Linked DNA regions of Homo sapiens. The protein of the gene in region 5 interacts with the protein of the main gene of each other region in a pairwise test. Each region holds a gene or a part of one and is shown on either strand. Other genes may lie near its edges.

What was found.
Region 1: the proteins of PDGFRA (region 5) and GRM1 come close enough for resonance energy transfer, tested with the Homo sapiens proteins (one large-scale study listed by BioGRID).
Region 2: the proteins of PDGFRA (region 5) and ULBP2 interact in a two-hybrid assay, tested with the Homo sapiens proteins (one large-scale study listed by BioGRID and IntAct).
Region 3: the proteins of PDGFRA (region 5) and MAP2K5 come close enough for resonance energy transfer, tested with the Homo sapiens proteins (one large-scale study listed by BioGRID).
Region 4: the proteins of PDGFRA (region 5) and CCND2 come close enough for resonance energy transfer, tested with the Homo sapiens proteins (one large-scale study listed by BioGRID).
Region 6: the proteins of PDGFRA (region 5) and TERT come close enough for resonance energy transfer, tested with the Homo sapiens proteins (one large-scale study listed by BioGRID).
Region 7: the proteins of PDGFRA (region 5) and LATS2 come close enough for resonance energy transfer, tested with the Homo sapiens proteins (one large-scale study listed by BioGRID).

The regions. Positions count from the first base shown.
Region 1 is NC_000006.12:146,430,636-146,434,639, reverse strand, and holds part of GRM1 (metabotropic glutamate receptor 1 isoform alpha precursor), read right to left. Parts: intron 769-4,004; coding exon 1-768. UniProt on the Homo sapiens protein: G-protein coupled receptor for glutamate. Ligand binding causes a conformation change that triggers signaling via guanine nucleotide-binding proteins (G proteins) and modulates the activity of down-stream effectors.
Region 2 is NC_000006.12:149,940,608-149,945,228, reverse strand, and holds the start of ULBP2 (UL16-binding protein 2 preproprotein), read right to left. Parts: upstream 3,216-4,621; 5' UTR 3,157-3,215; coding exon 3,072-3,156; intron 1-3,071. UniProt on the Homo sapiens protein: Binds and activates the KLRK1/NKG2D receptor, mediating natural killer cell cytotoxicity.
Region 3 is NC_000015.10:67,646,699-67,650,702, reverse strand, and holds part of MAP2K5 (dual specificity mitogen-activated protein kinase kinase 5), read right to left. Parts: intron 1-4,004. UniProt on the Homo sapiens protein: Acts as a scaffold for the formation of a ternary MAP3K2/MAP3K3-MAP3K5-MAPK7 signaling complex.
Region 4 is NC_000012.12:4,283,538-4,287,541, forward strand, and holds part of CCND2 (G1/S-specific cyclin-D2), read left to right. Parts: intron 1-4,004. UniProt on the Homo sapiens protein: Regulatory component of the cyclin D2-CDK4 (DC) complex that phosphorylates and inhibits members of the retinoblastoma (RB) protein family including RB1 and regulates the cell-cycle during G(1)/S transition.
Region 5 is NC_000004.12:54,267,152-54,271,155, reverse strand, and holds part of PDGFRA (platelet-derived growth factor receptor alpha isoform 1 precursor), read right to left. Parts: intron 3,868-4,004; coding exon 3,696-3,867; intron 3,605-3,695; coding exon 3,415-3,604; intron 524-3,414; coding exon 408-523; intron 1-407. UniProt on the Homo sapiens protein: Tyrosine-protein kinase that acts as a cell-surface receptor for PDGFA, PDGFB and PDGFC and plays an essential role in the regulation of embryonic development, cell proliferation, survival and chemotaxis.
Region 6 is NC_000005.10:1,267,137-1,271,140, forward strand, and holds part of TERT (telomerase reverse transcriptase), read right to left. Parts: coding exon 3,983-4,004; intron 1,498-3,982; coding exon 1,384-1,497; intron 1-1,383. UniProt on the Homo sapiens protein: Telomerase is a ribonucleoprotein enzyme essential for the replication of chromosome termini in most eukaryotes. Active in progenitor and cancer cells. Inactive, or very low activity, in normal somatic cells.
Region 7 is NC_000013.11:21,051,143-21,055,146, forward strand, and holds part of LATS2 (serine/threonine-protein kinase LATS2), read right to left. Parts: intron 1-4,004. UniProt on the Homo sapiens protein: Negative regulator of YAP1 in the Hippo signaling pathway that plays a pivotal role in organ size control and tumor suppression by restricting proliferation and promoting apoptosis.

The DNA.
Region 1 (4,004 bases), on a different chromosome or scaffold from region 5:
GGCGAATCATCCGGGGTCAGTTTGCTGGCCGCCTGCAGGTCCTCCTCCTCCTCTTCCAGTTCGTCTTCTTCCGTGTTCCCTTCCCGCTCGTGCTCATACACGTACTCCTGGAGGAGCTTAAACCTCTCGCTGTCGTCGTCGTCGTCCGCGGGCGGGGAGACCAGCTCCTCCCCAAAGGTGCTCAGCTGCAGCGGCAGCATCTGCAGGTGCTGCGGAGGTGGCGGGGGCGGGTACAGGGACCGCAGCCCGTTCCCGGGACCACCGGGGCCTGCCAGCACCGCGTGAAAATCCGGGATCGCGGTACTGAAGTTGCTGACCACTCCCTGGAGCTGGTCCATCAGCGATTTCTGCTGTGGAGGGGGTTGCTGCTGCTGCTGGAGAGGAGGGGGCAAGCCCTTGGGGAGGGCTGGTTCGGCCAGGAAGAGGGGGGTCTCCTCTGCGGTCAGGTGGGACGGCAGAGGCGGAGTGGTCGCCGCGCTTGGCACGCGCCTGTGCACCACCATGGAAGGGCTACCAGGCGGGCTAAAGCGAATCGGCTGGGCATCCTCCTCCTCCTCTACGTTGTAAAGGGTCTTGGTGCTGGTATCTGAAAAGGTCAGGCTCTTGCCAGAGCCTTGGTAACTTTTAGTGAGGGGCTTGATGACGGCTGTTTGGTTGCAGGCCGTCTCATTGGTCTTCACGTGCACAGAGAGGCGGTGCCACATATGCTGTCCCTTGGGCACCTGTCCTCCACCTGGTTCAGACCATGACACAGACTTGCCATTAGAACTATGAATAAAATAGAGATGGATTTATTTGCAGATAGATCATGCACACAGGATAAAATACATAGAAAACATATGCAAACCTAGCTCAGTGTGATTTAACTGCTGTCTCTGCTGTAGGCCTTTGCTCCAGCACCCCATACCTCCTCTTACAAAAAGAACACCAAAAGCTGAAGGAAATATTGACCCTGAGAAAAGTTGTTGAGGAGAAAAGCCAGTCTGTTGTAGAAATAGCTATTTTCATTTAGGTCTAAGATTTCACAAACCTCTCTTTTTTCTCCGTTGCACTCTCTCCCTCTCCCTCTGTCTCTCTCTGACACACACACACACACACACACACACACACACACTTTTGAAAAACTCCCAACTGATGGAGGAAAACTTTAAAAAAAAAATCTTAGTTACACATGGACAACCAAAATAATGGCTATTGTCCTTGGGACAAATTAGGACCCACATACAAAGCTACTCTCGTTGTGTTGTGGGATTATAAAATAGATCCTCTCAGTTGCCCATTCTCATATGCAAGTATTTCCCATGACCAGGGTGGCGTGATCACACAGGGTACCTATAAGGAACATAAAAAAGCAGATGACAGAAAAACTCAGACTCATGGTCAATTTATGAGCTTCATAGCTTTTGATTTTTTTAAAACATTTCAATGCATTATTTCTCACACATACAGTGGATCACAATTCACACAAAGGCCCTGACTCACAGAAGCTGGTTTGGGATTTTCACTCTAGGAACATTGAAATAGCTGTATTTGAAAAGCAATAGAATGAGGAAGCCAGGAAAAATACAAATGCCCACATCCTGCTTTAGGATAGTTTGATGCAAATAAGAGAAAATTATGATTGAGACAAAGCAGCAGTTACTGAGACGAAAACCTCTACTCATTGAGCCTTGGTGAAGAAGAGTCTTAGGGTGCCAGGAGCATCCCAGCCTTATCAACTCCCATCTTCATGGCACCCACAGAAAAGCAGCCATATGGAATTTCTCCCTGAATAAGAAAATAAGAAGATGTACTGTGGCCTACACCCCAAATTCTGTTCTGTCTATTGTAATAACTCTGATCTCACTTCTGGACTCAGCTTCTTTTCTGTATAACTTTAAGCAGATGTTGGTACCTTACCATAGCCTTCTACTAATAACAACGGTGGAATCCTTAAATCAGGAAATAATTGTTTCTTTTCTTTTTTTAGAAGTTTGCTTTTTCTCTGTACTCAGTAAAATGACAGAGAAAGTAGCATAATAGTAACACATTTATGACATTAAAAGGAATATAAAAATGGACATTTTTTTCTTTAAGTGGAGGTGTGAAATAGACTAATCCATATTCTAGTTTTTGTTTGGAAAAAATGTAGGAAATGATCAGTAGTTTAAATAATGGTTTATTTCATCATCTTGAGAATACAAGAACGAATACTTCAAAAATTATATGTGAGCATCATTTATGATGAAGGTAATATTTTGACATTTCATATTTTATAATCTTGAAAAGTAAAGTGAGCCAGATAAGTACAGATGAGTGTAAATGTCTGATATTGATTATAGAAAATTCTGGATATAAAGGCTCTAAAATAGATAAAACAGTTAAAGTTTTGACCTGATTATTTGAGAAATAGGTAGTTCCTCCATATATCTGATACCCTACACTGCATTTTTAATTGTCTAAGACAAAGCTCATCTCTGTTATGTCAAAGTTAATATTTCTTTCAAATATATGCCTTACACATTATCTGAGACTGTGGAAGTGCTTGTAAAGTTTTTAAAAATTGTCTTATTGACTTCCACACTATCTTGTTGGAATAGCTGACTCTTTTCTGAGGTAAACAAACTAAAGAACAGGTCAGTGGTGTCCCTGGCAAGAACAGGTAGTCAACCAGCTAGCCAGAATCACCACCAGAATCCACAGTTGCTCTTCTGAGCTTAAAACTGTAGGTAAACTCATCTTCCACTTAATCTTTTTCAACTGCCCCATCATCTACCACTATACACACTTTGTTTTTTTTATGCATTCAATATGCCTCTTCTAGAAAGGCAAATATAAAACTTATTTGCCTCTTACCCTCCTTAAGTATGCCTTACTATATATAGCATCCAACTCAATAATTTGCATCATTTTAAATTGCAATGAAAAAAATGTTTCCTTCCCCATCTTCCCACTTCTTCATAGGCATTAGGAAATGCCTTTTTAATGTTCACCAGGAAAATGCTTAAACAAAATGTTATCCTGTATCTATTTAGTTGTGTGTGTGTGTGTGTTAAAACAACAACAACAACAACAACAAACAGGTCCCTTGAGAAATAATCTGCCTCTAATTCAACCAGCAGGCTTAGCTGTTCCAATGACACATTGCCTTAGTTTCTACACATAATAGCAAAAAGGTACCTTGTTTCCTGAAAGCCCTAATGTGATCCACTTCACCCACTCATTCACATGGGCTGTTTTCCTCATTGTCCACAGGTTCTATGTGGGCCTCTTTTTAAATCAAAAGCACCCATAAGTTAACAGTATTATTAATCATGTTGCAGACAGATATAATCAGAATTTAGTTCTGTTTTAATTAAATCCAATTTTTATTGTTGAGATGGGACATTTTCACTATGGCCTTCAAAACTGGTAACTTTCGTTCCCCTCAGTCTTGCTCTAGATTTGCTGTAAAGTACTTTTAATTAGGAAACAGATCTCACACCTCAGGGCATTTATCAGATTAAGAAAATTAGTGTAATCTTTTTTCAAGGATAAAATAAACTGCTTTTTAAAAATCAAACATAGTAGAAGGAATGTATCATCTCACAGACATTGCAGCACTGAGTACAAACTTTAGTTCTTCAAGATGAGTCATTTCTTACCTGTGGTCCATAGATAATCTGAAAGGTCCATGCATCTATACCTGCATTAAGCATTGTTTTTAAACTGAATAAATATTATGTATTTGTAGACAATGCACTGCTGTTTTTAAATGTATGTAGATGCTGTTATGATAAAGAGTGTTATTCAATACATGTGTAACTAAATTCTGGGAAGCTTTTGTTTTGTTCTGTATTCAAATGGCCGTGAAGAGAGGTATATTTAGTAATAATAGATTCAGGTGAAGGCTTAAGAACTGTTTTGGTGAGAAAAGAGAGTATCTTATTTGAGAAGGCAGGGAACCCACTACTGTGATATTAAGAAGAGAAAAATATGTAAAATCAAATCCATTTATATCAAGAAAGAATAAATACATTATAAAA
Region 2 (4,621 bases), on a different chromosome or scaffold from region 5:
GATGCCTCTGGCAGGCTGGGCTGGCCCAGGAAGGAGTGCCCCCTCCAGAACTGTGGTGTCTACAAGTTTAAGGCGAGTGCTCGCCCCTTGCATGAGGACAAGGAGGAGGAGGAGGAGGAAGTCTCTGTCTGCTGAGAAACCACATGTCCCCAGACATGTCCCACTGCCCCTCTGCCCACATCAGTCAACACGTGACCTTGCTAGAAAGGTGCCAGGCCTCTCTAGCAAGAGAGGAGGAAGGGCCTGGATGGCAGAGGATCTTCAGCAGTAGCCCACGTGGACTGCGGGAGGTGGGAGAGGGTGTGGGTCCACCCCTGTGGATGCTGGTGCTGGTTGAACAGAGTGAGGATGGAACCCCGTTGGATAAAGAAGAGTTAATTATCATGGCCACAGGATTTAACATGTTGGCAAAGCCCCTGGTGATGGCATGCATCTGCTATGAGGAGGCCTTCCTGAAACCTTGGACAAAGAGATGGTCCACACAGCAAGAAATGGAAAATCTGAAAGTCTAAGGCAGGTAGTGGAGGGAGAGATCACAGGCTCAGAGAAGTGCCCATGCCAGAGGGGTCTAAGTGTGAAAATCCAGAACAATGTCCATCCACTGTGCTTATGGGAAACCTGGAGGACTCCTGTTTACCCAGCATATAAAGAAGGCCCCATGAGAAGGCACCAGAATGGAATGAAGCTTAGGGATGCCTATTGCTGAAGGCCAGGGTTGGGGGTAGGAGATGCTGTTCCTGAAATCTGCTCCCAGAGTAATGGGATGAACAATTCTGAAATTCCAAATTCCAGGTGGAGGCTGTCAACTGTCAGGAGCAAGGAGGGTGCAATGATGGAAATGATTAGAGAAGTCACAATGCCAGCTGGGGACCTCAGTTATACAAAGTTATGCCCATGGCTCATAGAACAAAGGGGTCCAAGGTCCAAAAGAGATGCAAACCCACCCCAGATACTGCTGGATTTAAATAATTACAAGAAACAGAGATAAACCAAATCAGGAGGCTGAAAGTAGCCAGTCCATCAAGAACGAGGCTGCTTTGCCTAATTTGCAGAATGAAGCCACTTCTCAGACCCTGAACCCATGACTAGAAGAAGACACCAGTTTCTAGTGAGGAAGGACCCTTTAACCCTGCAGCCAGGACAGTGAGTCCTTGTGGCCTTCTCCAAAGATATTTATGGCCAGTAGAGTTTGCTGTGAAGGGCAATTTTGTAAACATGTAAAGGTGTGCAGGGAATATATTCTCCATTGTAACTACTCAACTCTGCTGTTGAAGTTCAAAAGCAGCCATAGACAATCCATGCATGATGAGCGAGGCTGGACCTACCTTAAGTGCCCAATGACCCAAGACCCCCTAAGACCCTAGAGGTACATGTGGTCACAATGTCTAATTGGAGAATCACAACAGAGATTCCATGTGAATATTCAGAGACAAGGCAATGCCACTCACAGCAAGGAAATCGCAACATTAAGCAGTGGCTCCTGTAGAGTACTGCACCTTGGCAGAGATGGGGCCTTTTGCCATGCATATAAAGAAGGCCCATGACAAGGCACCAGAATGGAATGAAGCTTAGGGATGCCTATTGCTGAAGGCCTCAGAGCTGCCCATTACTGGTGGGCTCCTCACCCTCTAGGTCATTAGGAAGTTAGGCCCAGCAGTGAGAAGACGCAGGTGGTTCTTCTGGGATGGGCAGGAGCAGGGCCACCGGGAACCAAGAAGCTGCACAAGCAGTTGGACCCGATCCCCAGGACACCACGTGGCTGCACCCCCTCACCCTCAGCTCACACCTGAGGCTTCAGGGAGGGTACCTGATGGTCCCCGTGGATGCCACTCAGCACAAAGGAGGGGAGAATAAGCCCCCAACTATGGGACCCCCACTCCCATCACATCCACACCACCCAGAAGCCACAGACAAGGTAGGACCACCTTCTACTCTCCAACTGACATCAGAGACATCACTTGGAGATGACACCATAGGGGATGGGGCACTATTCACTGGGACATTGTAATCCCCTGATCTGGGATCAGCAACCTAGGACAGGGTCCAAATCTGGTCCCCCCTATTTGAAGGTTGCCATTGCCTGCTGTTGCTCTACAAAGGGACAGGACTGGACACTGAGACGGAGAACCCACGGCCTGCAAAGATCACAGGGCATCCTTCCTCCCTTTCTAGAAAGAGTTTGCTGACCCCTGTCTACACAGTGACTATTCTCTATGACGCTGACACCCCCGTAGGAAGAACAGGCGGTCTGGGCCCCAAGGGCAGAAGTGGGTGCCTCTACTCACCAGAGTTCCCAGGGTCATCCTGGAGGAAATGGTGCTTCCCATCCCCCCTGCACAGGTTCTGAGGGGAGCTTGGGGTGTGTTTGCTGGGGTGTGTCCTCAGGCAAGAGGCAGAAGGTGCGACGTGGTGTAGGAGGTGGTGAGGTCCCCTTCATGGATGGGGAGACCTCTGGGGTGACCAGCTGGGCTGAGGTGGGCAGTAAGAGGACGTGACCTGGGTGGTGGCAGTGGATGGTGAGGGGAGGGGTGGCGGTTGTCTGCTGAGCCCCTGGGTGCAGGTGAGTGTCTACAGGAAAGTGCAGGGAAAAATTCAAGGGCACGCAGCCCTGGGGGCGCTGGAGGGTTTGTGTGGTGGAGAGCGGGTGAGAGCAGAGCAGGCCTGTGGCTGGTGGGGGTGTCTGTGATCGCGTCCCTGTGGAATCCCGCTTCACCCCTGTCCTGTCCCCAGCTCCGGTTCCGGGGGCTCTGGTTTTTCCTTCCCGAGGGCGGGTGGGACTGCCAGGCTGCACCAGGGATCCCCGCCCCACCTCGCTCTCTGCAGCCCTCCGGCCCCTCCACCCTCCTGCCAGCCTCCTTTCCACCCCGCTCCTTTTCGCCTCTTCCCGGGCAAGAAGCAGCCTCGGGGACTGCACCCAGCAGGAAGGAGCCGCCGACCGGAACTGAACGGGGGCGCAGTTAGGGGAGATCTCCCCCGTCCTTCTAGAAGCCTCCCCTCCTCTGAAACCCGCGGCAGTTCACAGCCCTCCAGGCTTGGTCCCCGCCCGGCTTAGGCTCCATCCACGAACTCACCGGCTCGCCCAGCCCGGGACCAGCCGGACAGCAGGAGCAGAAGCGGGAGGCACAGAAGGATCTTGGTAGCGGCGGCTGCTGCCATTAAGGACCCAGAGCGCTAGGGATGAGAGACTTGATGGAAGGAGAGCCTGGAAGATGAATCACCTCAAGGTTTTAAAGCCTCCCTATGTACGGGCGCGCCCCCCGTTTCCCGCTGTCATAGCGTCAAGCGGGTCATAGCGTCACGCGGCTAGAAATATGATTGGCTGCCCTGACGGTGTCCCTCCCCTTCCCGGGCGTCCCTCCCCTTTGTCCCAACCCCCTTCGGGTTGGTGTCTGGGTGTCCGCCCGGCTCCTGCCAAGACACGGTTCCTTCCACGACAGACTCATTTAATCATCACAACATTTTTTTATTGAAGGTGAAGAAACTTGCAGAGGAATATTCAGCGGCGGCGGCGTCTCCCTGTCCCCGCCTGGGTCCGCGACGCTCTCCCTCCCTCCGCCTGCGCCGCGAGGTCCCTGGCTTATCATGCTCTGGGCGCAGCCACGGGCCTGATCGCGTCCCCTCCACTACTGCGCCAGTTCCCAGTGGACGTGATTACAGTCCGGGCTAGGTTTTATTATTTATTTATTTATTTATTTATTTATTTAGAGACGGAGTTTCGCTCTTGTTGCCCAGGCTGGAGTGCAGTGGCGTGATCTCGGCTCACCGCAATCGCCGCTTCCCGGGTTCAAGGGATTCTCTGGCCTCAGCTTCCGGAGTAGCTGGGATTACAGACGCCCTCCACCACGCCCGGCGAATTGTTTGTATTTTTGGTAGAGATGGGGTTTCATCTTGTTGGCCAGGCTGGTCTCAAACTCATGACCTTAGGTGATCCACCCGTCTCGGCCTCCCAAAGTGCTGGGATTACAGGCGTTAGCCACCGCGCCTGGCCCGGGCTAGGTTTTATTACAGGAGCAGCAGGCAGGGTTCCAGAGGTTTAAAACAACATATTGTGCACTAAACAACTGGTCAAGATGGTAAATTTTATCTTCTATGTTTTTACCAAAATTAAACAGCTTTAAAAATATATATTAAAAAATTATGTCTTGTTCCTGCTCTGCCCAATGCAGATTGGCCAAAAGAGTCTACTTATTAAAATCGAGGACAACATGGAGGACCCCGTTCCTAAAATCTCAACCTGTGACACACTTGCTGATTTAGAAAGCTCCTCAGAGAGATGGGCCCTGAGCTCCCAGTTCAGCAGCCTCCCTCGCCCAGGTCCACGGATGGCACAGGGGGCTCAGCAGAGCAGGTTCAAGTGAAAGTTCCTGGTGGTTCCCCACTGTTAGTGCATTCTGCTGGCCTCTTCGCCCTGGGCAAAGGGCCAGCCACCCTTCAAAGCTAGGCACAAATGCCCGGTCCCATGCGTGTCCCTCATGTTCCCACAATACAGAACACCCTCCTGCTCGCTGAGACCTGGGTCCACAGTGAGTGCATCCAGATCTCCCTGTGTGACAACTGCTCACACAATTTAATTTGTGTGTGTAAGCATGTGTGACAGACTCTTACTCTGTCACCAGTCTGG
Region 3 (4,004 bases), on a different chromosome or scaffold from region 5:
AATTACACATCATGACTAAGTGGAATAATTCCAACACTGCAAGACTGGTTCATTTTGCAAAAATCAATTAATATAGTATACCATATATTAATAGAATAAAGGACCAAATATGCACGATTATTTCAATAGATATAAAACAGGCATTTGACAAAATTTAATACCCTTTCATAATTAAAAAAAAAAAAAACTCAACAAACTAGAAATAGAAAGGAATTTCCTCAACCTGACAAAGGACAACTATTCCAAACCCATGGCTAACATCATATTTAATGGTGAAAGACTGAAAGCTCTCCCTCTAAGGTCAGGAACAAGAGAAGGATGTCTGCTCTCATCAGTCTATTCAACATTGTACTGAAGGTTCTAGCCAGGGTAATTAAGCAAGAAAAGGAAATAAAAGACATTCAGAATTGAAAAGAAAGCACTAAAACTACCTCTATTTGCAGATGGCATTATCTTGTATATAGAGAACCCTAAGGAATCCACAAAAAGCTATTAACATTAGTAAACAAGTTCAGCAAGGTTGCAGAATACAAGATCAATATACAAAAATCAATTACAGTTCTATACACTGGCAATGAACAATCCAAAAATGAAATTAAGAAAAACAGCATTAAAAAAACTTAGAAGCAAATTTAACAAATAGTTACCACTTATACCCTAAAAATTATTTTTAAATCATTGAAAAACAATTAAAGAAGACCTAAGTAAGTTGAAAGACATCTGTGTTCACGGAGTGGAAGATTAAATAATGTTAAGACAGCAATATTCCCCAAGTTGATCTAAAAATTCAATTCAATTCTTATCAAAATCCCAGCTGGATTTTTTTGGAGAAATTGCCAAGCTGATTCTAAAATTCAAATGAAAATGCTAGGTATTCAAAATGGCCAAAACAATCTTGAAAAGAACAAAGTTGGAGCACTTACACTTCTCGATTTGAAACTTAAAAACTATAATAATCCAGAGTTTTCAAGTACAAGTAATCAAATATGGTGTGGTACTGGTACAAAGATAGACAACTAGATCAATGCGAGATGTATACGCATTGATCTGAAAGTACAGAAATATATGTTATGGTCAATTTTCAACAAGTATAACAAGAAAATTCAATGGGAAAAACAGTCTTTAACAAACGGTACTGGAACAAATGTATATCTACATGCAAACGAATAAATTTGGACCCCTATCTCATACCATATATAAAAATTAACTCAAAAATAAATCAAAGGCTTAAATATAAAAGCTAAAACAATAAAACTTGAGGCTGAGGTGGGAGGATCACTTGAGCCCAGGAGTTCAAAACTAGCCTGGGCAACATAATGAGACCGCAGCTCAAAAAAAGGAAAAGAAAAGAAAAAAGAAAGTGAAAAGATAAACAATAAGTGAAAATATTTGGAAATCCCATATCTGATAAGAGCCAAGTATTAGAATACATAAAGAATTCTCACAACTCAACAATAAAAGCCCAATAACTCATTTAAAAAATAGACAAAGGATTTGAAAACATATTTCTCAAAAGAAGGTATACAAATGGCCAATAAGCACATGAAAAGATGCTCAACATCATTAGTCATTAGAGAAACCTAAATCAAAACCAAAATGGGATACCATGTCACACTACAAGCCCACAATTTTAAAAAGACACAAAATGACAAGTATTGGCAAAAATATGAAGAAAATGGAACCTTATACAGTGCTGGTATGAATGCAAAGTGGTGTAAAACAGATTGGAAAAGTTTGGTAGTTTATTAAAAAGTTAAACATAAAGCTACCATATGACCTAGCAACTTTACTCCTAGGTATATACCCAAAAGAACTGAAAACACTGACCGGGTGCAGTGGCTCACACCTGTAATCCCAGCACCTCGGGAGGCCAAGGCGGGGAGATCACGAGGTCAGGAGATCGAGACCATCCTAACACAGTGAAACTCTGTCTCTACTGAAAATACAAAACTTAGCTGGGCATGGTGGCACGCGCCTGTAGTCCCAGCTACTCGGGAGGCTGAGGCAGGAGAATCGCTTGAACCCAGGAGGTGGAGGTTGCAGTGGAGGTTGCAGTGAGCCGAGATCACCCCACTGCACTCCAGCCTAGGCGACAGAGCGAGACTCTGTTTCAAAAAAAAAAAAAGAACTGAAAACGTATGTCCACACAAAAACTTGTACACAAATATATAGAGTAGCATTATTCATAATTATGCATAAAGTAGAACTATCCCAAATGTCCATCAACTAATGAAAGAATAAACAAAATGTAGTATAGCCATACAACGAAATGTTATTCAGCAATAAAAAGGAATGAAGTTCTCATATATGCAATAGTATGGATGAACACTGAAAACATTATACTAAGTAAAGGAAGCCAGACACAAAGGCCATATATTATCAGATTCCATTTATATGGAATGTCCAGAATAGGTAAATCCATAGAGACAGAAGATAAATCAGTGGTTGCCAAGGACTTGAGGAAAGAGAAAGTAGAGAGTGAGTACTAATAGGTAGGAAGTCTCTTTCTGGGGGTGGTAAAAAGTGTTTTGGAATTATACAGTGGTGATGACTACACAACCTTGTGAGTATATCAAAAACCATGGAATTGTACACTTTTAAAGGGTGAATTTTATGGTATCTGAGTTATATTTCAATAAAAAATTTTAATTTATTTGTTTTTTGATACAGGGTCTCACTCTGTTGCCTAGACTGGAGTGCAGTGGCACGATCACAGCTCACTACAGGCTTAATCTCCTGGGCTCAAGCAATCCTCCCACCTCAGCCCCCAGAGTAACTGAGACTACAGGCCCGTACCACCATGCTTAGCTAATTTTCCTTTTTTTATTTTTTTTAAGACAGAGTCTCACTTTGTCACCCAGGGTGGAGTGCAGTGGCGCGATCTTGGTTCACTGCAACCTCCACCTCCCAGGTTCAAGCAATTCTCAGTCTCAGCCTCCCAAGTAGCTGAGACTACAGGTATGCGCTACCACACCTGGCTAATTTTTGTATTTTCTATAGAGACGGGTTTTCGCCATGTTGGTTAGGCTGGTCTCAAACTCCGCTTGCCTCGGCCTCCCAAAGTGCTAGGATTACAGGAGTAAGCCACCGTGCCCGGCCATATTTTTAAAAATTTTTTTGTAAAGATGAGATCTCACTATATTGCTTATGCTGGTCTCAAACTCCTGGGCTCAAGCAATCTTCCCACCTTAGTCTCCCAAAGTGCTGGGATTACATGCGTGAACCACCGTGCCCTGTTTCAACAAAAATGTTTGAGTAGAACTGAAAAATTGAAGACTTCAAAGAAAGAATGATAAAAGTTACAACACAGTAACATGTACTGGCTCAATGAATCCACTTTTTCTGGTCAGTCTCCACAGTTACCATACTTACCTATATGGCTGTAAGATTTTTAATTTTTGACATTCTACTATAACTAATTTAGAGCATGTTGTACACCTTATGACAGTATCAAGGTACCAATGTTGGCTCATTAAAGTTTTGCAGGGCACAAACTAATTGCTTTAGTAATGTACTGAGAATCTCCACAAGGAACTAACAATATTTTCTTAAGTTGTGTTTTAATGGACTAGACTATGGAAAACTGAATATGTAAAATTTAAAGACTGCTTAGATTTAAAATTGGTAAATAATAATAATGATGACATCATTTCACTGATATGTCCCTAGAAATCTGTATTTTGCCGTAATATTCAGGTCAAGAAAGAACTACCAAAATAGAAATGAATAAAAAAATAGAGAGGGAAGGAAAGGGCTAAAGTCCAAAGAAAATTAAACACATCTTGGCTAAACAGCTGTGTTGAAAAACAATTTCTTATCTTGCAATTAAGAACCGATTTCTTTCTGAAAGACACAGGACATTGGGTTAATAGATTTCTTTAAAAGAAAATCTGTTTTGGCTATTGAAACATTAAAAGAACAGAACATCTGTTTTGCAAGTAAAGACAGATTGTGCAAAAGAATCAAATATCAAACCACCAATTAGACTAGCATTTAATCTGTTC
Region 4 (4,004 bases), on a different chromosome or scaffold from region 5:
TTCATTGATTCACCTGTAAAAGGAGATGTTTGAAACAGATGAATTTCAAGCTCCTTTTTATTAATACCTCACCATCATCACCGCCGTCATAAGCAAGCATGCAGCCCACAGCAGAGCTGCCCCTGGCGCCTGTGGGTCCAGCTGGGATTCCCCTAAGGTGTGTCCTTTGCCTCCACCATTTTGCCAGGAGGGAGGCGGGAATGTCGGGTGTTCCTGGTTATCTGGGCATCGTTCCTTGGCTCGGGTGAACTGCATCTCAATGAATTGTGGAATGTGCTGGGTTAGAGTTGCCAACTTCTCTCTTCCATTCGCTGAGTGTTCATGGGGTTCTTTTCATTCCCCTGTGGGGCTGCACTTTCTCCCAGTTCTGCAAAGCAGCAGGAGGCTTTGGGGACTCGATGATGTCATTTCTGGGACACATACACAACTGGATAGTGACAGATTCTCCAGGAAGCACAGAGCCCTCATTCTTCCTGGCCTGCTTGGCCTGCTCCCTGCATCTGCCTGCAATCCAGGGATGCTGGGCGCCTTTCTCCTCATCCCTCCAGACGCTGGAGAGCATCTCCAGTCGGAACTCCCCACCACAGTCCTGCAGGAAGTACTAGGAGTGAGAGCAGAGGAGGGGCAGGTTGGGGAGGATGCTGGCTGACATTCATTGCTTACCTTGAACCAGGCACTGTGCTTTTACAAGGATTATTTTAAGTGAATCCTCAGAACAGCACTACAACGTGGGTATTGCTGTTGTCATTATTTGCAGATCAGAAAATGAAAACTCAGAGAGGTCAGGTAACTTGCTCATCTTCACACACTTGGTAGGTGGTGGGATGGAGATTCCACCTCCTTCTGATTCCAGAGCTAATACTCTGAACCAGTGAGCTGTGTTCTCCAGAGGTCTGCTTTGGTTGGAGGGGAGCTGGAGCCCTAGGCCCTGGGACGGCCTCTGTTGCCCATGGCAAGGCGTGTGGCTGCTCCTGCTCTCTTCAGATCTCCAGATGCAGCAACCTGGAGAAAGGCCCTCCTGGGTCTGGTGGGGACTGGGGCAGGAGTGGAGGCTGCCCAAGCTCCGTGCACTCCACGTTCCAGCTTGGAGCTTTTTGAGTCTACTCTCCAAATCCTTCCCATCTCCCTGAAGAGTCTTCTGAGAAGTGTCTCAAATGCTCCTCTTCACTCAAGAGCCTCCTTTCTTTTTTTTTTTCTTTTCTTTTTCTTTTTTTTTTTTGAGACAGTCTTGCTCTGTCACCCAGGCTGGAGTGCATGGCACAATCTCTGCTCACTGCAACCTCCAACTCCCGGGTTCAAGTGATTCTCTTGCCCAAGCCTCCAGAATAGCTGGGATTACAGGCGCGTGCCACCATGCCTGGCTAATTTTTGTATTTTTAGTACAGACAGGGTTTCACCGTGTTGGCCAGACTGGTCTCGAACTTCGGACCTCAGGTCATCTGCCCACCTCGGCCTCCCAAAGTGCTAGGATTACACTGTGAGCCACTGCGCCCAGCCTTCAAGAGCCCCCTTTCTTTGAGAAGTTTCTTCAGAAGTTATCCATATAGTAGTACAGACCTAGCCATTATAGCACACCATCCTCTACTATCTAATGCATTGATGCCCAGCCTTAAGAAGTCTGAATATTGTACGTTTTGGGGGGAGTCCTCCATGCTGCCTGGAACAGGGAGGAGCACATTGTCATGAGTCGATCAGAATGGATCGCTGATCGGTTCATTGCCTCTCTCTCTGCTGCAGGAGGAAGGATCTCAGGAAGTCACCAGCATCTCACCTCTCCAGGTGGGCAATTAACGATGGCGAGGGCACACCCTCACCCCTGAGCGTGCCTTCTGCACCAGCATATTGCTTGTTGGCATTTTTGATCAAGAGACTTAACAGACTGCTGAGAAATTTGTACCTGGTTTTTATTTGTTAAAATAATATTACGTACAAATTTTACAAACTCATCTGTGTTTCTCCCACCTAACAGAACAGCTTTTATTTTCCGTGCATCCTTCCAGTTCATCCATAGGCATATATGTATGTATTTACCCATGGTTGTAATCTTCATCGTCGCATGCATGCATGCAATTTGGTTTTCCGCTTCCTTCTTCTGAGTGGATATTGTGACCATTTCTCCATCCTGTCATAGCGACAAAGCTGATGGTTTCCAGGAATGGCTGCATTGGGTAGGTGGAGCTTTCCACAGTTGAGGGTGGGGGTTGGCTAATTACAGCTAGGAAGCTAGTGCACAGATGAAATGATGTTTGATTTTTTTGTTTTTCTCTCTGTTCAGTATCCCCTACCAGTAGAGAGGGGGATGTCCTTGAGAGTGGTCCTGGGGCAGCCCTGGTGCCACGGGGAAGTAGCGCCGCTCTGTGGAGAGGGCTGCTTTGTGAATTTGCCGGCTGGTAGACACCGTGATCCATTCTATTGTCTCCTCATTGTTCTTCTCCTTGGGAGTCATTCCCATTCCAGATCCTCAAGTAAGAGCAAAGTAGACCTGTAAGGCACCTGGGAGGTTATCCTGCTTACTATCTTTAAACTCTTGACCTAAGCCATGTAGGAAGAAACACATTTTATAACACAACTCAGGATACTTGTACAAGTATATCAAACTGATACAAAAGTTTCTCCGAACAATATTTACTCTTAACGACATACGGTGAGCCTGATACTTTCTATCCTACTCTATTTGGTTAAAGGAGAACAACAACAGAAAGTGCTGGTCACGACCCACAAATGCATTTCATGACCCATTAATGAGTTGCAGCTAGAAGTTAGAAAAACACTTATCTCACCCAACCCGTTATTAGACAAATGGGAAACCAAGCCCTTGGAAAGAGGAAGTGACTTGCCCACAGTCCCACGTCTGGACCTAGCTGGAGGGCTGATGTTGCCTCAGTATTTGACTAACCTGGAGGAGAGGTGGGGCATGCTCAGGGATCCCGAGGAAGATGCTCGTCTTCTGTGTAGCGGGCAACAGAGGGCAGCACGGCCGCCGTCCTCGTCTCCAGCGGCGTCTCTCCTCTGGCTGTGGGAACACACTGCTCCTTTGGTGCCACTCTGAGCTGCTGAGAGGCAGTCAAGTTCATGCACATAGTGCTCCCCAATTCTGTGGGATTGGACAGTGTCCCCAAGAGGACTCCCCTGAAAATCTTCTTAGTAAAACAAAAAGGGAGGTAGAGTCTCCCTGTGCAACCGGTGCACCTGTTCCCCCTATGCCTGCTGGCTTCCAGAAGTTCATTCGTATGCCAATAATAAGAGTTGGTTTTGCTAGCAGTGGGACAGCAGAGATGGGCATGTGTGAGGTGTGCTTCCCGGTCTGAGGCCTATGGCAGAGGGAAGGGAGGGCCGGGGATACTTGCCTGCCTCTTCCCTGGCAGATGCTCCCACCCGGGCCTTTGTGGGCCCAGGGCCATGGGCCGGCTGCCCCGCTTGTGTTATGAATGTCACAGGGGGGAGCTAACGAGGTTATTGGGCAGAGAAACACTCTCCTGTGACCCATGTGGAAGAGACCTACAGCAGAGCAAGAGGCAGGGAGGCTGGCTTTGTCACACTGTTCATGGCGACAGAGAAGGCGTAGGAGGGGCGGGTGGACAGCAGGCGTGGGCGCAGCACCATTATATACGTCCCTCAAGAGGTGGAGATGGTGAGAGGGCAATGGAGAAAAAGCCAAGGAGACAGGCAGATGGCCAGGTTTGCTCTGCGTTCATGATGGGAGGGGAGGGCTGTGCTTGGCTCAGGGATCCACGGTGTCTAACAATGCTGCTAACTTGATGCTGGGGCAATGGGCTGACCATTAAAAGAGCTGCTGTAGAAAGTGTGTTTGTAATAGAGTGTGTACAGGAGGAAGGGGAAATAGGAGAGGGGCTGGTTTTTGTAGATTTAACCTGATTGTTTTTGCTGTAAGTTGAAGGGTGACCCACGGTTCCCTGTATGCTGTGTCTCCTGCCCCCACGTGCCCCTTCCATGTCTACACACAGTAAGCTCACTAGAGCAATGCTAAAACGAGAAAGAGTACG
Region 5 (4,004 bases):
CATCTGCTTCTCTCTTCTCAGATTGAGAAGCAGGTGCTAAGTAAGCTGGTGGAGGCCAGGTGCAGTGGCTCACACCTGTAATCCCAGTACTTTGAGAGGCCAAGGTGGGAAGATAGCTTGAACCCAGGAGACCAGCCTGAGCAACATGGCAAGACTCCATCTCTACAAAAATAAAGCTAGCTGGTGGAGCCTAGGGATTCCTCGCCTACTCTAGAGTAACCCAGAACCTCCCAGAAATACCTGAATTCATGAGTCCAGCAGAGGTATTCCCGATATGTGACATATGCAGACACTGCTTCTCCCCTAAGTGCTGCTTTTCTTCCATGACCGGGGAGAAAAGTGCCAGGCTTTCCTTGGAAGACACTCATCTACAGAGCTAGCATTATCTTTATACTCCCTTTACATACCTTGAGTTAACAGTTCAAAAGTATAGCTCTTCACAGCATCTTCATTTTGAGCTACAATAGTATAATGGCCACTGTCTTCTTCCTTAGCACGGATCAGCTTTAATTTGCTTCGATACCTTTTAAAAAAAGGATTTTGTTTCAACAAGCAGTAGCTAAGTAAGTTCCAATTGTTTAAACAATTGTACTCTTCAATTTAAGTTTTATTTTTACTGTAAAAAGTAAAGTCATCTTTTTTTCTTGTCCATATCATCTCTTCTGGAATTCTCAATATATAGTGCACACACTGAAGGTCTGGATCATACACACAATTCTTACAAGAGAAAACCAGACATTCAGAGATGAGCAATGGCCATCTCCAAGAGCTATCAGTTCAGCCACGGCCTGACTTCTGAATGAATAAACACAGCCTACCAACTTTTCTTTAAAAAAATAAAAAATAAAAACCTTTGATTTTTACCTTTTTTAAAAAATACTTGCTTCCCCTAAATATCCATCATTTAGGTGGTTCAGCCAAAAAATGGAATATCACTGGAGGATAGAATGAGGACACTTTCTATGTATTTGTATGTAGCGGTCTGCAGGATATGACAGTCCTACTTGCTTGTATTTTGCTTAAAGAAACTCTGGAAGGTTTCATAAGAACCTAATGAAACTAATGAAGATGTTTCCCTGTGGGGAGGAGGGGAGAACTGGGCAGCTGGGGACAGGAGTACAGTGAGGCTTCTTACAATGCATTCTCTTTTTGTTTGATTATTTTTCAAGCACGGGATTCTATCACCTATTAAAAAAAAGTTATAGGCTGGGTGTGATGACTCACACCTGTAATCCCAGCACTTTGGGAGGCCAAGGTAGGTGAATCACTTGAGGTCAGGAGTTCGAGACCAGCCTCACAAACATGGTGAAACCCCCATCTCTACTAAAAATACAAAAAAAAAAAAATTAGCCAGGCATGGTGGCACATGCCTGTAATCCCAGCTACTCAGGAGGCTGAAGCTGAAGAATCGCTTGAACCCAGGAGGCGGAGGTTGCAGTGAGCCGTGATCGTACCGCTGCACTCCAGCCTGGGTGACAGAGCAAGACTCCATCTCAAAAAAAAAAAAAAAAGTTAGAAAAAATATGCCTCTTCAAAAAAAAAAAATATATGTCTCTTCAAACTTTATTAAAGAGAAACTTCCCCAAAAATATTTTACATGGATTATAAATGACATCTGGTTGTGTGTGTGTGTGTGTGTGTGTGTGTGTGTATGTATGTGCATAAATATAGTATGTGCCCATTTGATTGTCCTTTATAAATCATCACAGTTGAAAAAGCAACTGGAATGGAGAAGAAAAGCATTGGTCATGGAGTGAGAAGATCTCGGGTATTATTACAATGCTCCATGCCTCAGTTTCCTTGTGTGTAAAACGTGATAATTGTACACATAGCACAGAGTCATTGTGAGAGTTAATTAAAGGAGATTGTATGTGTGAAAGCATTTCATAGGCTCCAAAACACTTTGCAAATACTGGGGCACTCAGACCTACGAAGACAGCAGGCTGGACCATACTGGGTGTGCTCCAGGACTGGATTTCCTTAAGAGAGTACCCTGGGGCACACTAGGATGCTGATTACCAAATTATCCTCTGCTGTTTGTTCTCTTCACTTCTTCGGCCAAGAAAACCACTGGTTTTCTTGCTCCAGGAAAGCCAGATCCCCCATCCTGGAGTTTTAAGCTCCAGGAAGCCAGATCCCCCATCTACCATGTTCATCTTTGTATTCACTGGCTCATAACAGGAACTAAAAAATCCACGTTGAAGCATCCTTGAATCACTAAAAGGAAAAGGCAGCTTTCCAGAACCACTCAGTTGGCGAGCCTGTCCTGCCACTGCTATGGATTATGGCTTGCAGACAGTGCTCACACACGTGTTGGAGGTGTTAGCTGTACCAGGGTTGTTACCCTATTCCTCTCTGGCTGCACAGCCTCATGGAAGTTCCTCGTGGAAAGCTGCCCTCCTTGTTGTACACCTTCATTTTGTGTCAACAGAAAGCCTTCCAGATTCAGTATCCCACTTCATTTTTCCTTTACTATTCTATAGAGGCTGTAAAATTCCATTTTCTCAGACATTGCTTCTCAATTACACGTGGAATTTAGTTCACAAAGAAGAAAGCAAATCCTGAGGTGAATGGAACTGATGAGAAAGGCTCTGTTCTTCCTCCTGAAGGCTTGAAATACAGGACTGACTTTGTCTTTCTGAGATGATTTCTGACAAAAGTATAGGGCTGGTTAGCTGGGTGCTGTGAGATGTATCTTCTGACTCTTGGGTTCTAATCACAGCTTAAAACCTTAAGAGGCCTCATGATATCATCTGATCCAATTCCTTGCCTTGAAGGACATAAGGTATTGTTTATCCTACATTGTAGATGAGGAAACTGTGGCTGAGGGGTGACTCATTCAAAACTCCACCACCAATTAAGAGATGAGAGCAATCTACCATTCTGATTAAAAGGTAGGGATCCAAGCAACTCACTGCACATCTCTCTCCTGATTAGCCAGGCTCTACTCTTCTTTCCTGTGGAGTCCTCAATTAGGGCAAATGGGTTCCAGATTAAGCCTATGACGTTAACTTTCACGTAAGGTGATGTGATAACTGCCTCATGGGTGTAATCACCATATCTGTCTACTTGCGATATGGATGATGAACATCAGGGAATATATTCAATCTATTCAATCCTGGTGAGTCCAATTTTACTTCCTTTCTTCCACCCTAGCTGAATCCAGTGACCTGTCTTTCCCCAGGGGCCAGAGCTTTTAGTTCTTTCTTCTCATCTTCTCATTAAATACTTACCAGCATACTAATACCACTTTGCAATGTTATCATTAAAGGGATGTGATTTCAAGCATCTCTTAACTCAGATTGTTACATTTTCTAGACTGACTTTGGGTCTGGGTTGTAAGACACACACAAACCTCAGTCCGCCTCTGATGCACACTAAAAAAAGGCATACTTGGGCAGAGAGTTTCTTTACCTTATTTCCTGAATCTTTTCCACATCAGTGGTGATCTCAGTGAGATTTTCAATCAGAGTCAGATTGTTTTTCAGCCAGGATATCCTGGGAGGTGGGTAGGCCCGCACCTCTACAACAAAATGTTTGACTTCATGCAGGTTGACAGCTTCCAACTGGCTGAAGGTGGGTTTGATTTCAATGAAACCTTTCTCTGTACAGGGAAGAGTTTCCATTAAATAATGATTACCACATATGGATCCCGAGCAGCATGGACAACTGACATTTTAGAAAGCGGAATGTACCATGGACAGAAATAGTGACTTTCTTCATTTCTTTGACCTCCCTGGTAGCCTGGCGGGCAGCACATTCGTAATCTCCACTGTCTTTCACCGTGGCCTCGGGGACCGTCAAAGTGTACACCAATTTGATGGATGGGACTTTGATTTCTTCCAGCATTGTGATGCCTTTGCCTTTCTACAGCAAAAGGGGAAGAAAACCGACTTTTAAAAAGCTCGCTCCTAGGAGTGAACTCTAAGATAAACTATGGACTCTGGATGATATGGATGTGTCAATGGAGGTTCAGCAGTTATAACAAATGGATGGTAGGGATG
Region 6 (4,004 bases), on a different chromosome or scaffold from region 5:
TATTTCAATCTAGAACTTGAACCTTAATGAAGAAGAACCTTGATCCACTGTACATGCTATAATTGGAGCTAGAGTTTCAAAAGATGCACAGGAAAAACCCGGAGTCTTCGAGAGAAATGGCTGTGTGGCCTGCAGGCTTCCTGACGCATCCTTCACTAACTGTCTGCTTGTTCAGTGATACTATTTTCATAAAAAAATAACTGCTGTCCACATCCTCTCCAGCACCAGAACACTTTTACACTGTTGGTGGGAGTGTAAACTAGTTCAACCATTGTGGAAGACAGTGTGGTGATTCCTCAAGGATCTAGAACTAGAAATACCATTTGACCCAGCCATCCCATTACTGGGTATATACCCAAAGGATTATAAATCATGCTGCTATAAAGACACATGCACACGTATGTTTATTGCGGCACTATTCACAGTAGCAAAGACTTGCAACCAACCCAAATGTCCATCGATGATAGACTGGATTAAGAAAATGTGGCACATATACACCACGGAATACTATGCAGTCATAAAAAAGGATGAGTTCATGTCCTTTGTAGGGACATGGACGAAGCTGGAAACCATCACTCTGAGCAAACTATTGCAAGGAAAGAAAACCAAACACCACATGTTCTCACTCACAGGTGGGAACTGAACAATGAGAACACTTGGACACAGGGTGGGGAACATCACACACCAGGGCCTGTCATGGGATGGGGGGAGTGGGGAGGGATAGCATTAGGAGATATACCTAATGTAAATGATGAGTTAATGGGTGCAGCACACCAACATGGCACATGTATACATATGTAACTAACCTGCACGTCGTGCACATGTACCCTAGAACTTAAAGTATTAAAAAAAAAAAAGTAACTGCTGTCAATAAAAGCCAGCTGAGTTGAACCACATTAGGTTGGCACGATATTTAGGTGTGTGCGTCCTTGGGTGTAGACCCCATGCAAGTGGGATGGGCAATGGGCTGAAGAGGCGCCCAGTCCAGGCCACCTGTCGAGGGCCTGCTGGGAGATGTGGGGCCTCAGGCTGCACCAGCCCCATCTCCCCAAGGACCCTAACGGAACCTGGGTGACGTGACAGAAGCTGGTGTGCTTCCTCGGTGTTGAATTCACATGCTCATCATGCAGGGCAGCGGCCCTCCCGCCTGCTGAGCCCTGAGGCCTCTGGACATGGCCGCTGGACAGAGCCTGCGTGGAGCCCGCAGTCCTCAGGCTGTGCAACCCCTCCCGTGCGGCTTCATACCAAGAAGGGGCTGCAACCTTGTCTGGTTCCTCAAGACAGAGCAGTCATGGTCTCCAGAGCACCAGGAATATTAACACTGAATGCATCAAAAGCAAATCAACCCCCACCCAAGCCCCCCTGGGGAAGAGGAGGCCTCACCCGTCCCGCCGAATCCCCGCAAACAGCTTGTTCTCCATGTCGCCGTAGCACAGGCTGCAGAGCAGCGTGGAGAGGATGGAGCCCTGCGGGATCCCCTGGCACTGGACGTAGGACCTGGGGCGGGAAGACACAGGTGAGAGACGGGCAGGGCATGTGCTGGACATGCGTACACTCAAACCGAGCCACACACAGACACAGAACCTCATACACACAAACGACACGTCTACCATTCAGCCGGCAAACACCTCAGAAACATACCAGATGAGACCTCTGAACAAACAATCCCTGCTCCCCACTCTCACCATGCACTGGGGCGGCTGAAACAGATCCAGCCACAGGTGTGACCACATCCTTGCTCTGAATCATCAAGGTTTTCTTTCATTAAGGTTTCTTAAATCTTAGAGTTTATTCACAGAACCAGACACTTGACCCGGAATGAATGCTTAACCGGACTCCTTTTTTTTTTTTCAAGGAATTTGTCCACGGTGAAAGACTCATGACCCTACATGTAGCCGCTGCGCGCCAACGGATACAACCTTGCCCCTAGTTTCAGCATGACCAACGAGAAGCAGAAACTCTCCAAACAAGGATGCCAAGGGTGCGTTTTCAGACAAACAGTGAGAGCAGAATAGCCCCGTGGAACCTAAAGGTGCACACAGAAGGCATGGCTGCCACGCGACCCTCAGCCATCCCCAGAGCCCACAGGACGCCACTCCTGTTGCTAAGAGACGCTTGCAGCCTACTGCAAAAACAAGACCTGTTATTTTCGGGAAGCGCTATAGGTGGTCACCTTAAAAAGAGGCTTTCCGGCTGGGCGTGATGGCTCACACCTGTAATCCCAGCACTTTGGGAGGCCGAGGTGGGTGGATCACCTGAGGTCAGGAGTTCGAGACCAGCCTGGCCAACATGGCAAAAACCCCTCTCTACTAAAAATACAAAAATTAGCCAGGCGCAGGGGGTGGGTGCCTGTAATCTCAGCTGCTCGGGAGGCTGAGGCAGGAGAAATGCTGGAACCCGGGAGGCGGAGGTTGCAGTGAGTTGAGATCGCGCCACTGCACTCAAGCCCAGGCAGACAACAGTGACGTTCCGTCTCAAAAAAAAAAAAAGAAAGAAAAGAAAAGAGGCTTTCCTTGCTGGTGCAGATATCACAGTGATGGGCAAGAGGACTGCACTTTTTGCACAGAAGCACACGCACCAACTCTAGGAGTCCGGCCAGCCCAGCGAGTCAACGCAAGCAGATACGCCCCTGTGAGCACATGGGATGGGAAACTCTCTCTGTTCTTAGTTTTTGGGGCAACAGGTTTTGAAGACGTTTTTATTCAGAGGCCAAACTGGACCACGATGGGGACTAGAGCTTCGGGCCTGTCCGTGTCCTAGGGACAGGACAGACACAGTCACCTCCTGTCTGTCAGGGCATGAGGACGCAGTCATCACCTCACATTCCCCAAAGCCCTGCCACACGTGGACGGTACGTGACTTGATCCATCTTAATAAAATTCACGACCACGAAGGAGGCCCGTGGTGGCTTCTCTGGGGAGGTGACTTTGTCAGCGAATTCTGTGGGCCTGGGGGCCGCTTACACACATGTGCACACGTGTCCCTCGGCCAAAATTCACTCTGCTGCCATGTGCAATTTGTGTTTTTCCAGAACGTGTGTACTACTTAATATTTCTAATTATACTTTAATAAATATTATAATTGCTGATACCATTAGTGATTACTTATAATGCAATAATTAATAGTTATATTTTTAAATAAAAGCTTCCGAAGCTGTGCACAGTCCTTTATCCGCTGGAGACGATCCCAGAGAGAGGCCTCCACGTTCCACCTGACTGCGGATGACCTTGCTGATGACCTTGAGTGTGCACGAATTTCCTCCGTGCTACCACTCTCCCCAGGCACACACAGGGTCGCAGGCAGATGCCTGCCGGGAGGTGTGTGGTTTTACTTAAAATCCAGAGGACGTGATGTGGCACCAGGCACTGTGGCTCTACCACCGTGAGTGTGGCTCACCCAGTGGCTGTGTGACGGCAGCTCTCCCAGGCCGCCTGCCCCATGGCCACCACAGGCCCCCCGAGAGGAGCAAACTACACGGTCAACCCCGCACTTTCCAGATGGGAAATCTAGTCACAGAGAGAAGAGCCCGCGCCCTCGCGGGGGTCACACGACAGGGACAGGAATGAGAATCGGATAAAATCCTTTTGTATCGGGAGAGAGAGATACAAGCGTGTGAGAGCCGGGTGTCCAGCGTCAGTAGTAACTTGGAGCTGACAAGCTGCAGGCTCAAACGCTCGGCGCACACCTGACCCAGACACACCCCCCGCCCCTCGTCCTCCACGCAGGAGCAACTCCACACCCCGCTTGCCATTTCCAGGCCTCGTGTGGCACCTGCTCCGCTCCGGCTGCCGCAAGCCGAGCCATGTTTCCGGGGCCTCGGGAGCCTGCAGCCCAGGAGCCGGAGGGGGCGGGGGCCAGAAAAGGAGACTCTGGTGGCCCCGGGCAGAAGGGCAGTGGGGAAGGGGCAGGAGAGAGGTGAGCAGAAGCCCTGCCAGCCCGCCCAGCCACCCGCAGGGCAATGGCACCTGGCCACCTGACTCACTTGCCCCTGATGCGCACGGCGT
Region 7 (4,004 bases), on a different chromosome or scaffold from region 5:
CAAGCAGACTGCACATGCCCTCATATAAATGTGTATACATGTGATGTGAGACAAGCCCTCTTATATGTAGGGCCCTTGAGCAGTGCACAACCTGAACACCCACACAAGGTGACCCTGTTACTTGGTCCTGAGGATGCAGAAAGACTGATTTGCCTCTGACTTTAAGGAGCTCATAGCTCAAGATGGGAAGGCAGAGGAGAAAATCAATTATTTAAATACACTATAGGGTATGTGTCACAATGAAAGTTTGCCCAAAGAATTATGGGGATCTGAAATAGAGAGCAGTTACAGGATAGAGAAAAGTGGGTGCACTCAACAGCACTAAGAGGTAGAACCCATAGGAGTAAGTAATGTTCACTGGAAAGGACTGATATGAAAGATGAGCCCAAGTTTCTGGTTTGAAAAATGGGGCCAGTGGTGGTGCCATTCTCTGAGCCAGGAAACCTCACCTGTCTGGGCAATGCGGCCCACCAGGAGAGCAGTGTCAGTGGTGGAGGAGGAAGGCAGTGACCAAAGGTGAAAAAGCACAGGGCAGGCTGGGTCCAGTGGCTCACACATGTAATCCTGGCACTTTGGGAGGCCAAGGTGGGAGGACTGCTTGAGCCCAGGAGCTGGAGACCAACCTGGGCAACAGAGGCAGACGGCATTTCTAAAAGTAATTAAATAATTAACCAGGTGTGGAGGCACACCTATGGTCCCAGCTACTCCGGAGGCTGAGGTGGGAGAATCACTTAAACCCAGGAAGTAGAGGCTGCAGTGAGTCAAGGTCACACTACTGCACTCCAGCCTGGGAGTCAGAGCAAGACCCTGTTTAAAAAGCACAGGGAGGGGAAGCTCACTGAAAACTGGGTGTGCAGTGCTAAAGTGGCTGGAGGTGGGAGGCCTGGGTCCTTCCCCAGCTCTGGCACTGAGCGTGTGGTCTGAGCCTGTCACTTAACCTTGCTGAGTTTCAAGCTCCTGCACGGTACCAAGGGTCTAACACCCGCTACTGTCTACCTGACAGGCTTGCCTTGAGGATCACAGTGGTGCTGTGTGTGACAGCAGGCTCAATCTGTAATGCATGATATACTGATCAATTATCACCATTACTAATTAAAGATTTATAATAAGTTAGGCAAAAAAGGTTTAATGAGGCCAGGAGATAAGACCACGGAAAAATTACCAAACTGAACACAGAAACAGGTTGCTTGCTCCAAGTGACTCCTCTTTATTTTTTATTTATTTATTTGGGAGAGTCTCACTCTGTCACCTAGACTGGAGTGCAGTGGCTCAATCTCAGCTCACTGCAACCTCCACCTTGTAGATTCAAGTGATTCTCGTGCCTCAGCCACCCGAGTAACTGAGATTACAGGCGTGCACCACCACACTCGGTTAATTTTTGTATTTTTAGCAGAGATGGGGGTTTCACCCTGTTGCCTAGGCTGGTCTCGAACTCCTGATCTCAAGTGATCCACCTGCCTCAGCCTCCCAAAGAGCTGGGATAACAGGCGCGGGCTACCATGCCCAGCCGAGTGACTCCTCTTTAAATCAGTGTTTGAGAATGATGCTTAGAAAGTTAAAGTAGCTTTCTTTTAACTGTAAAGACAGAAAAACACAGAGAAGAAAAGCTTAAGTCTTTCCTCTCTGAAACGTGCCTGCAGCCAGGTGCCAGGTTGGTCAGTTCTGAGCAGCATCTGAGCCTCAAGATGCTGACTGCGGCTCAAACAGCAGGTCTGGGTTGACTCTGTGATCCTGTGTATGTCAAAGGCACCGATGCTTCCTGTCCTCCCCAACCTGCAAAACCTTTCTCTCAGCTAGAAAAACCGAACGCTGGGCCGGGCACGGTGGCTCACGCCTGTAATCCCAGCACTTTGGGAGGCTGAGGCAGGCAGATCACGAGGTCAGGAGATCGAGACCATCCTGGCCAACACGGTGAAACCCTGTGTCCACCAAATATACAAAAATTAGCTGGGTGTGGTGGCACGCACCTATAGTCCCAGCTACTAGGGAGGCTGAGGCAGGAGAATCGCTTGAACCCGGGAGGCGGAGGATGCAGTGAGCCGAGAACATGCCACTGCACTCCAGCTTGGCAACAGAGTGAGACTCTGTCTCAAAAAAAAAAAAAAAAAAAAAAAGCCCAACTCAACCCCACCTGCCTGGCTCACTCCTACTCCTAAAACCTCAGCCCAGAACCCCTCCCACAGAAGGACCTTCCTGACCTCCCCAATCTAAGGGACCATACATGTTCACTCCCAGCCCTTCCCACAGCACCACCACTGGCTGGTGTGCTTCCTCTTGAAGAATCTGATAGCACCACGAGGGCAGGAGCATCCTGTTTGGTTTACCCCCATCTACTCCCAGGCATGTGCACACAGGCCCACGCAACATCTGTTGAAAGACACAGGTAGTCACTCAGCACCGAATCTGCGTCCTCAGTTCCACACTGAGGACAAAGCCTGCCAGTGCCACCCCAAAGGTCTAAGGTGATAAAGGAGAACGAAGCCTCAGTCAACAGCAGCACCTTCTCTGAAGTTTAACATGCAGGTCTAAATGAAACGGGCCCAAGGGAGGTTCACACAGAACAAAAGTCGCAGAACTATGGCATATTATTCAGCTATAAAAAGGAAGGAAATCCTGTCATATGCAACAATAAAGATGTACCTCAAGAACATTATGCTAAGTGAAATAAGCCAAACACAAAAAGGAAATATTGTATGATTCCAGTTATGTGAGTTACCTCCAGCAGGCAAATTCATAGAGACAGAAAGAAGAGAGATTACCAGAAGAAAGGGGAACAGGGAATTTTTACTTAAGGGGTACAGTTTTTGTTTGGGATGATGAAAAAGTCTTATGTATAGACAGTGGTGATGTTTGCAGTAATGGTGCATTTAATGCCACTTAACTGAACTGTATACTTAAGAATGGTTAAAAGGATAAATATGTATATTTTTCCTCAATTTTTAAAAATGGGGAAAAAAGTCTCCTAACTACTCCTATTTAGCAAACTCGTGTTTGAACAATGGCTCCCTTTTTAAACATAGCTACACGGCTGGGTGCAGTGGCTCATGCCTGTAATCCTAGCACTTTGGGAGCTGGAGGCAGGAAGGCAGGAAGATCACTTGAGGTCAGGAGTTCAAGACCAGCCTGGCCAACATGGCAAAACCCTGTCTCTACTAAAAATGCAAAAATTAGCTGGAAATCGCTTGAACCTGGGAGGCGGGGGCTGCTGTGAGCCGAGGTCATTCCACTGCACTCCAGCCTAGGCAACAGAGCAAGTCTCCACCTCAAAAAGAAAAAAAATTTAAATAAATAAATAAACATAGCTACACAATGAGAAGACTGGACCTAGGGACTGGGTAGGATATAGCAGGGCAAAGTCTCCACGTGAAGTCCAAACCCTAGGGCAGCTGCACCTCCCCACCCCACTGGCCCTCCACCACACGGACACTGACTCACAGCAGAGCCACGCTCCTAGAGACACTTGGGGTGTTAAGCATCTGTGGGTGCCACAAACATTCAAATAGTAAAATCAACCAGGGCAGTCGAGACTGGACATTTCTATGTCGATGTCTGTTTATACCTGAGCAAAGAAATACTAAGTGGCCGTGTCCCTAGCCAGATCAGGAGTCCTGGTTTTTCTTTCTTTTTCCATTCCCCCCTCAACATTTGCTTATGAAAAATGTCAAACATACAAAAAGGTTGAGAGGATTATTCAGTGACATCCCTAAACCTACCACCTGGTTTTGTTTGGTACGGAGGGAGGGGGAGGACCCCACAAGCTGTTCTGATTTTTTCTCCATCTCCCACCATAGTGAGGCACTAGTCTAGGGATACCACAAGGGCTGTCCCTGTCTTAAGTGAATATGAAAAAATAGTACCTACGGATAAACTGTGTTCTTGCCTGAGTACTTTAGAAAGGATGAAACGTTCCTTCAGTTTCATAGAGAATGAAAGCATTTTTTCAGCTTCAGACAGTGTATTTTAAGCTTTAGTTTGAAGACAGTTGATTTCATGGCCAAATTATG